2 separate regions of the Homo sapiens genome follow, and region 2 is linked to region 1. Evidence: fine-mapped QTL for protein levels in blood plasma. A gene starts in region 1. The other region holds a variant in brackets. All regions are shown on one strand. Distances are from middle to middle. Region 1 holds the start of CFHR5 (complement factor H related 5). Region 2 overlaps KCNT2 (potassium sodium-activated channel subfamily T member 2).

Region 1 (5,393 bases):
CTGATCACTTATATCACAGTGGTCCCATAAGATTATAATGTAGCTGAAAAATTCCTATCAACTGATGACCACCACAACATCATAATCCAATGTATTACTCACATGTTTGTGGCAGTGCTGGTATAAACAAACTTACAGCATTGCCAGTCATATAAACAATAGCACACACAATTATGTATAGTACACAATACTTGATAATGATAATAAATGACCATGGTACTGGTTAATGTATTTAATGTACTATAGTTGTTATCATTATTTTATAGTTCACTTCTTCTACTTATTAAAAAAAAATAACTGTAAAACATCCTCAGGCGGGTCCTTCAGGAACTATTCCAGAAGAAGGCTTTGTTATCATAGGAGAGGACAGCTCCATGCATGTTACTGCCCTAAAGACCTTCTAGTGGAACAAGAGTGAGGAGGAAGACAGTGATACTGATGATCCTGACCCTCCGTAGGCCGAGGTTAATGTGTGTGTTTGTGTCTGCTTTTAACAAAAAGGTGTAGAAGGTAAATAAATAAATAATTTAAAAGATAAAAATCTTACAGAATAAGGATAGAAAGAAAAAATATTTTGTACATCTATACAAGGTGTGTTTTAAGCTAAAACAAAAGAGTTACAAGTTAAAAGATTTTCAGTTGATAAAGTAGAAAGCTTATCATAAATTAATTTATTATTGAAGAAAAGTTTTAAAAATAAATTTAGTCTATCCTGGGTGCACCAGAAGCTCAGTAATTAGCACTAAAGAACTTATCCATGTAACCAAAAACCACCTGCTCCCCCCAAAATATTGAAATAAATATATAAATAAAATAAATTTACCTAGCTCAAGTATTCAGTGTTCATGAAGTTTACAGTAGTGTATGGTAATGTGCTAAGCCTTCATATTTGCACACCACTCACTCAGTGACTTACCCAGAACAACTTTCAGTCCTGCAAACCCTATTGACGGTAAGAGCCCTATACAAGTCTGCCATTCTTAATATTTTATATTGTATTTTTATTGTACCTTTTATATGTTTAGGTAAACACATTCTTACATTTGTGCTACAGTTGCCCACAGTATTCAGTACAGTAACATGCTGTACAGGTTTGCAGTCTAGGAGTGACAGGCCGTATAGCTTAGTTAGGTAGTAGGCTATACAATCTAGGTTTGTGTAAGTACACTCTATGATGTTTGCAGGAGGACGAAATTGCCTATAGACACACTTCTCAGAACGTTTTCCTATCATTAAGTGATGTATGAGTGTACACACACACACACACACACACACACACACAGACAATTACCTATATATAAAACCTTGCAATTTATTTGCCTATTTACATTTTGCTTTTCTTTTAGGACACTCTAAGTAGTAGTGAGGGGTGGGTGGCGTTGTCATATTCTTTCCAGCTTCTTTGCTACAGCATGAAGCACAATATATTGCTTGATTCATGTTTTGCTACTGGAAGCATGCAGTTTTCTATTTGTACAAAAGTGTTGCTTTCGTCTGTTATTTCTGCTGTTTGGCCAGTTTCTAAATAGACACCAAAACAAAAGTGTAATGCACACTTACAGGTCATTTAACACCTAGACAACTTTTAATAGAATTTCACTAAAGTTTATCCTGGGACTGGACTGAAGCTTGAAAGTTTTGTGGGGTTAGGAATTGTCAAAATTCTACATATTATCCTCATAATTTTCACTTATCTTCCTCTGCTTCCACCCCCCTTTAGAAATCCTTGTGTAATGCCATTTGTAACAGATGTTTAAGCCACTTAATAAATATCATAAACACAGACTTAAGAAAAATCAAATACACTCATGCAATCGCACTCTTGTGATTATAGCTCAGTACTAAAAGTGAAAACAAAATAAAATGAATTTTAGGCCCATAGAAATAATGTTTTGCAACATTTGTAAGGGCATATCTTAAAAAGAAAGCATTTTATGGTTCATATTTTTCTCTTATGTCAGGACTGAGAAGAAAGTGTTCAAAAAATTTAAAGATCTGTAAACATTAGAAAGCAGTAAAGCAGTAAAATAAAAACTTTCTGGAAATCAAAGAGTATATAGCACAATGATTGAAACTTCACGTACACACATAGTTTAATCAGTATCCTAGACCTTGTTAGAGATTTTGTTTGCAATCCTTTTGATATAGTGGCTTTAATTTCCACATGAAATAAAATGGGATAGTTTATAATGTTATAAGAATCAGTTTATAGTATTAATAAAGAAGTGATATATTATTTCACTTTTGAAATTTGTGGAAGAGCTCAGAAGAAACAATTTTTTGGCAGTTCACTGGTTTATATATAAAAATAATATTTTCTATTGTTTCATTAAAATATATTTCCCTGTTGAATGATAATTAGGCTGAAATGAGAATTCCTTCATTTTAATAACATTTAAAATGTAAATTATCAAATCTATGAAAATAAAATTCTCAAAACATAATGAAGGTGGCCAAATCTTTTGGGGTTGATTTTTCTAGTCAGTGGCATTGCAGAGTTTATGCAGAATTACACTAATATTTCACCTTGTCATCTTTATTATAGCAGATTTTCTCTCCTTTGATTTCTCTTTACATTATCTATTTGGTGACCATTTACCCTTAGCAAACTAGAGAACGGAGAGAATTAATTTCATTCAATTTTCCTGCTAATTGCATGTTGGAAAATATTTCCAGAAAATAGATGAATATTGTGATACCCCTTCAAATTATCCTCAGCTATTTATTCATTTAAAAATATTTGTATGCATACACACACACAATCAATAAATACATTTGAAAAGGAACTAAAATATTCGGATCTGTTTTCAACTTACCTTCTCCCCCAACAGTGGATACCCATGAGATTAGGATTACACTGAATAAGAGCAACATGCTTGGTAGTCTCAATCGTATATAACTAAAAATACTCCAGTGATGGTGGTGTTGCTTTAAATCTGCTTTCATTAACAGTTACAAGCATGACTTTGAATTTCAATGTACTAAGGGGAAGCTAGTTTAGTAAAGCCCTTTGTGGAAAACATCAAAGTTCATGGAGGGTTGTGTGAAATAAGCAAATAGTATCTAATCAGTGTCTTCACAATAATATTCTCAGCTCGTTATGTAATATTTATTTAAGCAAAATAACTGCTGTTCAATTTCCTTGTTGTAGTCACCGAGTCTCTGAGTTTGGAACAATCAGAAATGGACTGTTTAGAGGAGAGAGGAAGCTCCCCACCGCCGGCCCCCTGGGTTTTTTTTTTTTTTCTAGCCAAGGGTTCAGCTGTTTCAAAAGGCAAGCAAGTGCAAGTCATCAGTCCTCATCTTAATACAACAATATCACTTTTGTAGTTGTAAATTCCCTTTTAAAACTGGCACTAAGAATTAGGTACCTTCTTAACAGTTTTAATATTTCATAAACTATAAAAGGTCTAATCAAGAATTATTTTTGCTGGCCGGGCGCAATGGCTCAAGCCTGTAATCCCAGCACTTTGGGAGGCCGAGGCGGGTGGATCACAAGGTCAGGAGATCGAGACCATCCTGGCTAACACGGTGAAACCCGTCTCTACTGAAAAATACAAAAAAAATTTAGCCAGGCGTGGTGGCGGGCGCCTGTAGTCCCAGCTACTCGGGAGGCTGAGGCAGGAGAATGGCGTAAAACCGGGAGGCAGAGCTTGCCGTGAGTGGAGATCGCGCCACTGCACTCCAGCCTGGGCGACAGAGCGAGACTCTGTCTCAAAAAAAAAAAAAAAAAAAAAAAGAATAATTTTTGCCAAGTAACGTTTCCTGAAATGTTTGAAGAACAGAATTATAATTCAAAATCATTTTGTTCAGGTGGGACTTCGAGAATGGCTATGTGAGGGTCTTGGTATATTCACTCCCAACCAAAAGGCAGCAATAAAACTGGATAAAAATTTAAAAGTAACCATTGGTTGTCTCTGGAAATTGGCCAAACAGCATAATGTTGGGAAATATTTTTTCCAGAAAGTCTCCATAAAATTCAGTAAAAGAGAGCGGATGCTTTCATCCACCTCTGTCTCGCAGCCCAATTCCGTGGCTCAGAAGTTGAACCCTGGATGGGCAGGCAGGCTATGTGGACTGGAAGCTCTGCTCCCCTGCTGGAGAAGAGTGACTTTATAGCTTGGAAAGGTCCATGCCCGAGGATCCTATTGAATACAAAGAGATTACAGTGGGAAACAATCAGAGAAGACTAGAGGATACTAGCTGAAGCAAGCAACAAAGTGCCCAGCCTGAGAGAAATTTAACATTTAATGGGGAAATTTACAGAAACAGCCTAATGATCTCACTAAGAGGAAACTTACTTATGGTGGTTCAGAAGTCAATGGGAATGCACATAGCTATGTCCAATCAAGAAACCAGAGAAGTCCCTGTGAGCTATTAGTAGTCTCCACTATTGATTCTAGTCTATCTAAACCTTGTCATTTCCAATTACTACACTACCTAAAGTATCTAAATATTAAGCATCACACTCTAGACCATTTCAACAATCTTTTTAGCTCACTTACTCTACTAAATTTGTTCCAAACATTCAATGACCCTGACACTTTTTCACTATTCTCTTCCCTTCATTTTCTCTCTTCCCACCACATCTAAATTAGATTCCATGGCTCATCACTGTCAGTCAGTCCCTTGCACACACTCTCCTGCCCATTCGTTCCTTTCTATCTGTAATCCAAGTCTTAGAAAACCTCAATCCTTTGCAAATAAATTCTCTACCTGCCCTGTGCCTGAATTGAAGCAGCAGAGTGTGTCTACAAGAAAAACAAAGGCAACTGTGCTGACTTGCCTTGCTTTAAATTAATGAACACGGTCCTAAATAATTTCCACACTGCTTTTCCCCTCTCCTGTTTTCATTATCTCCCTCCTTAACCACCAATCCTCACTTTGTGCTTTGCTAATGACTTCATTTATTTTTTCATCTAGATATAGAATCAATCAGAAGAAAACTACCTGCTGTTCACACGCATCCTTTTCTGCATTGTCTCTTGCTTCACTGGATGTTGATCTTTACTCCTATCTTGTTATGGTCTCTACCAGATTTGATCCCATCTTTTCTGTGCAAGGATTTTGCTCTTTCAATTATTCCTTCTCACCTGTATCATTAATTTCTCCATTTTCCAAATTATTTCCACCAATATGCAAACATACCAAACATCTTTCATCATGAAGAGCAACAACAAAAGCTCAAAAATTGTTCATAGAACCCAAATCTCTTTCTAGTAATCTAATTCACTTCTCATTTTATAATACGATGACTCCAATGTTATCTACAATCTCTACTTTAATTCATTTTTTCATTCCCAACACTACGCTTAAACCCCTCTTGTAACAGTCACCAATGCCTTCTTCAATCTAATCAAATCCATTGGTCAAAACTGAATACTCAGAAAAAT
Region 2 (5,393 bases), 640 kb after region 1:
GCCTCAAACACAGTGAATGCTGGAAGAATAGTAGGAGATGAGGACGAACAGGTAGAAAGAGGCCAGATCCTGTTGGGCTTATTTAAGTCCATATGGGATTGCAGCTTCTACTCTCAGTGAAGTGGGAATTATTGCAAGGCTTTATGCAGAGCCATTGACCTGATCTCACCTATGCTGAGTGCTCAACTCAGGCTGCTGTTGAACATAGATGGTTTGGAGCAAGGATCAGACTATTTTCAAGTGGAAGTGGTAAGAAGGAGAAAATTCTGCATGTACTTTGAGGATAATCAGGATTCCTTACAAAATGAAATTGAACTGTGAGAAAAAGAGAAGTGTGAAGAAACATAAGGTTTTCGGATTAAGCAACTAGGGAAAGAGAATGGCCATAAATTTAGAGGAAAGGCTAGGGGGAATGCAGGTTTTGCGGGGGTGAAGGGAAGATAAAGAGTATTTTGGAACACCTTGAAGATGTCTAACAGGAAGTTGTATGTAAGAGTCTAGATTTCAGGAGAGAGAGAGAGATAGGCTGAAAAAGTAAATTTTGTATTTCTGATCTTATGTATATATTTAAAGCCATAAGACCAAATGAAGTCTTTGAGGAAATGAGTACAGGCAGGAAAAAATAAAAGACAAAGCTCTGCAGTATACTAAGATTAAGTATCAGGGGGATGAGAAGAAACCAGCAAAGGAGACCAAAGAGGAGCTACTGGCAGGCTAGTAGGAAAACCCAATGAGTGAGGTGTCCTGGAATCCAAGTGAGCTAAGTGCATTAAGACAACACCATGTAAAGCCATGTCTGATAGGTCATGGCTGAAAGCCAAGTACTGATAGGTCGTAACATAAGGACTGAGAAGTGTCAATTGACTTTAGCAATGCAATGATCATTGTTCACCCTCATAAGAGCTGTTTCAATGGAGTGGTGGTGGACAATGCTAGATTGGACTACGTTTGGGAAAGAATGGTAGAAGATAAATTAGAAACAGTAGGTCTGGACAGTTCTTAAAACGTCTGACTGCAAAACGGAGAAAAGAAATGGATTTGTAGCTTGTGTTGAAAGTACAAGCAAGTAAGGAAGGCAGAGAGATTGAGGGTTTGTATAATAGATTGTATATAATTATAGGCCATGGAACTTAATTTAAGTAAGGAAGTGAAAAGATGTATTTTGGTTAGAAAAGACTGAAAGGAGAGTGGATTAATCGATTCTAATTCCAGTGAAAATCAAGAGGGAAAGAGCTGGAAAGCCAAGGTACAGGTGTCAAAGAGTGAGATGCCAGAAGGAGAGATGATGTGCAGCAAGTAATAATTACAAAAGCTAAGGTGTGGCCATGAGAGTGAAGGACTGAAGAGTGATAGTAGAAAAAGCCATTACTAGAGAAGAGGACAAGGAGTTGAGTCTGGAATGTTGGAAGGATCATCTATGTGTATGGTGAAACTGCCAAAAATCAGGACAGACAATGTGGAGAGACTATTAATGATGCAAGAGCTAAACTGTCTGGGTGTATTCAGTTGCATAGGTATAGATATGGGGAACATGGAGAGTTTAACTTAAGCAGGGTTCTATTTTGTCAAGAGGGTGGAATGAAGCAAAAATGTATCAAGGGATCCAGGGGTATATGCAAGAAAATAATCATAATGCTTAAACATGGAATTTAAGATAGTTAAGAAGAGAAGAGAGAGCATCAAGGGAATGAGAGAGACAAACTCTGGTATCATCAGTAGAATTGAAGTTCCAGCATGGTAAAATCATAGCTAGTGTTAGGAAATCAGTGAGAGTGACCTGAACAAACAAGAAATAGTGGTGATCAAAGGGTGAATGCATAAAAATGTGTGCAACATTGTTTTTATTGGTTATAACAAGGTCTAAAAAATCACTATGGAAGTGAAGGGCTGAGATAAGGTAAAAATTTCTTCAGTTCATGTTATTATAATGAGGAAGAAGCTTGGAAGGCCAGAGGTTTGAGGAAAGTAGAATTTTAAATAGTCATGCGCTGCATAAATTCAGTCAATGATGGATAGCATATACAATGGTGGTCCCAATAAGATTGTAATACCATGTTTTTACTGTATGTTTTCTATATTGAGATTACCATTGTGTTAGAATTGACTACACCAATCAGTACAGTAACATGCTGTACAGATTTGTAGTCTAGGAGCAGTAGGCTATACCATATAGCCTAGGGGCAGTAGGCTATACCTATACCATATAGCAGTAGGCTATACCATATAGCCTATGTACCATATAGCCTAGGATAGTAGGCTACCTCATCTAGGTTTGTGTAAGTATGATGTTTGAATATCTAAGAAATCACCAAATGGTAGATTTCTCAGAACATATCCCCCTTTTTAAGCAATGCATGACTGTAATTGTTTCAAAGAATGGGACAAAGCAAAGACTAGCAACTTTTAGAAGGATGACCAGGTGCCACTGAGTACATAAATGAAATAAGTAATTATGAAATATGATGCCTTTCATCGTTATTTTCTCCAGAAGGAGAGGAACCTCAATTTTTCATAAATAGATATTAAAATTAATTTTTACATTTCAATAAAATTCACAAAGGGAATTGCTTCTTCTGCCTTCTATTCCTTGAATGCCTCAAGTATTCAATAACCTTAAGCCACTTGGGCTTGGGCTTGCCATTCTTACTGCCTCCAGGTACTTCCATGACTTGTGTGCTCCTTATTGTATTTCAGGTCAAAAATCGAATGTCCTAACTTCACAGTGGCCTTCTCTCCTATCAAATAAAAATTCCATTCCTCTCCCTGCATGCTACTGATTATTGTCTACAATTATCCATTTATTTGTCTACTTGCTACATACAGGTTTC[A/G]TCTTGTAGAAACTTTGTTTGTCTTCTCTACAGATCTCAAGTACCTGGAACAGTGCTCCCCATATGTGGCACTCAATAAATATTCATTTAATACAAAATAAGTATAACATATTAGTAGTTCCGATATTTTAAAAAGTGGTCATAAATCAATTACAAAAAGATAGCTCAATAGAAAAGGGGGCGCTTGAACCTGGGAGGAGGAGTTTGCAGTGAGCCGAGATTGTGCCACTGCACTCCAGCCTGGAGCGAGACTCTGTCTTAAAAAAAAAAAAGAAAGAAAGAAAGAAATAAAAGAAAAAGCAAAGAGGGGAAACACATAATGAAAAATTCACAAAATGGACATGGTCAACAACAAAAGAATAAATTTTAAATAAATATAAATTGAAACATCAGGGTATACTTTTTCACTTTAAGTTTCTATATACTTCAGGATTTTACAAATCTTATGTTTTGTGCCATAGAACAACACTCTGCAAATACACTTTTGTGCAAATAGAGATTTTCTTGTCCAGGAAAATGCCTGTGTGCAAAAGAAATATTTAGCTATCAGAACTAAACTTATACACCACACGCATAAATATATACTCTCTCTATATATATATTTATTGTGTTTATTATATTTCATATTTCATGTAACCTTCAACACTAGTGATCAATATGGCAAACGCCTTGATAAATTTTCATGTTTTATTGTTTTAGGTACTGTGGCTATAGACTTGCAAGATACAAGCTGTAGATCAGCAAGTGGCCCTACCCTGTCTCTTCCTACAGAGGGAAGCAAAGAAATAAGAAGACCTAGCATTGCTCCTGTTTTAGAGGTTGCAGATACATCATCGATTCAAACATGTGATCTTCTAAGTGACCAATCAGAAGATGAAACTACACCAGATGAAGAAATGTCTTCAAACTTAGAGTATGTTCAGATACTCTAAGGTGTAAGATTACTGGGTTTTGTGCTAATGTCCTTAAGTATTTTCTTTACATACCTTCCCAATAGGTAAGGAGCTAATGATCTTTCCTTCTGAACATCCTAGAATCATTCCTATATACTTCTACCAAAACGCACTGCTAGTAGCCAGTATCTCTTTTGACTGCAGAGCATTATAAGCCCTCAAGTTTCTGGCTTCAACATATATTTCCAGTCTCATTTTGCTCTTAATTATCTTTTATCCTCAAGGAAAAAAAAATCAGTGTTCCCAAGATATAAGCTTCATTTTCATAATTGTATGGTTTTTATAGTATATTGTACTTTATACTTTGAATTTACTTTATTGCACATCCATATTGAAGTTCAATCAATTATTCAATGAAATGAAAACACAGCCCCTTCCATTAAGCTTTCCTTACTTATCTCAGTGTTCAGCACTTTCATACACTATTCATTAATTATTTTAAATGTATGAATAAAAGGAGTACTGTTTCCCTTTTCTAGGCTTCCATAATAATAGAACGCCAATCTATATAGTATTAATCACATTGTAGCTTGCAGTAGAGTTTGTTTGCATGTCTTATTCCACATATTAAATTGTCATTCTTCAGGAAAACACAGCAGTCCACAGGCTTGACTGTGGAGTACTAAGGACATTGCTTGCCATGCCAGTTCCACTTTATATTGGTTGTGTACAAGTGACTTTAATTAAACAAACAAACAAAAAAAAAAAAAAACTTGCAGCTGGGCACAGTGGCTCACACTTGTAATCCCAGCACTTTGGAAGGCCGAGATGGCAGGATCATTTGAGGTCAGGAGTTTGAGACAAGCCTGACCAACGTGGTGTGGCTGGTCTCAAACTTTACTAAAAATATAAAAATTAGCTAGGAGTGGTGGTGCGCGCCTGCAATCCTACCTACTTGGAAGGCTGAGACAGGAGAATCACTTGAACGCAGGAGGTGGAGGTTGCAGTAAGCTAAGATCCTGCCACTGCAGTCCAGCCAGGGCGACAGAGTGAGACTCTGTCTTAAAAAAAAAAAAAAAAACTAGCCAATAATTTATTTACCTGTAAACTGAGTGTAATTACTACTTCAGAAAGCTATTAGTGATTAATTGAGATAATGGAGAAAAAGTGTTTATACAAAAACAATGTTTTGTGTAGAGTAAGCGTTCAATTAGTATTAATTACTATTAGTCATATTACGGGTAGTAGTGGCATTGGCAGCATAATCTCTGACATTTCTTCCAGTGTCTTTCATAAAATGTAAATTCAAGTAATGTTGAACTAAGAAGAACTTCAGTGTCATTGAAGCTTGAAAATATTCTTTGTTTAAATTTCTCACACTTAAAAAAATACTGTAAGAAAGGTTGGTGTACCCACAAAACCAAATCTACTCTTCAAAGACATTAATGGTCAAAGTCCTCAAATGTATTTGGAATCTAGGATGGGAACAGGGATAGGTTTGGCAACCAGTGTCTTCACAGGAAACAGTGTTTTGGAGTGCGACTGAAATTCTTTCTTTACACTTCTTAAAAAATTGAGAGGTAAAAGATTTTTTCTTATTTCTAGAAAAACGAAAGAGATGTTGAGTAATTGTAGAGATTACCAACTTCTAAATTTACAAAATTTTACCCTA

The links. PIP is the chance, under the fine-mapping model, that this variant and not a neighbour inherited with it causes the effect. Sun 2018 read protein levels with aptamers (SomaScan).
Region 2: its variant is fine-mapped to the plasma level of the CFHR5 protein (Sun 2018, PIP 0.95).

The regions. Positions count from the first base shown.
Region 1 is chr1:196,975,146-196,980,538 of GRCh38, reverse strand. It overlaps CFHR5 (complement factor H related 5), which reads right to left and starts at 2,983. Exons shown (of 10, transcript NM_030787.4): 1 at 2,817-2,983. The coding sequence starts at 2,874.
Region 2 is chr1:196,332,195-196,337,587 of GRCh38, reverse strand. KCNT2 (potassium sodium-activated channel subfamily T member 2) reads left to right here. Exons shown (of 28, transcript NM_198503.5): 17 at 3,528-3,741. Among named protein-coding and RNA genes, the nearest start is that of LINC01724, 250 kb to the right of the region's middle. The variant A/G (reference allele first, on the strand shown) is at 2,829.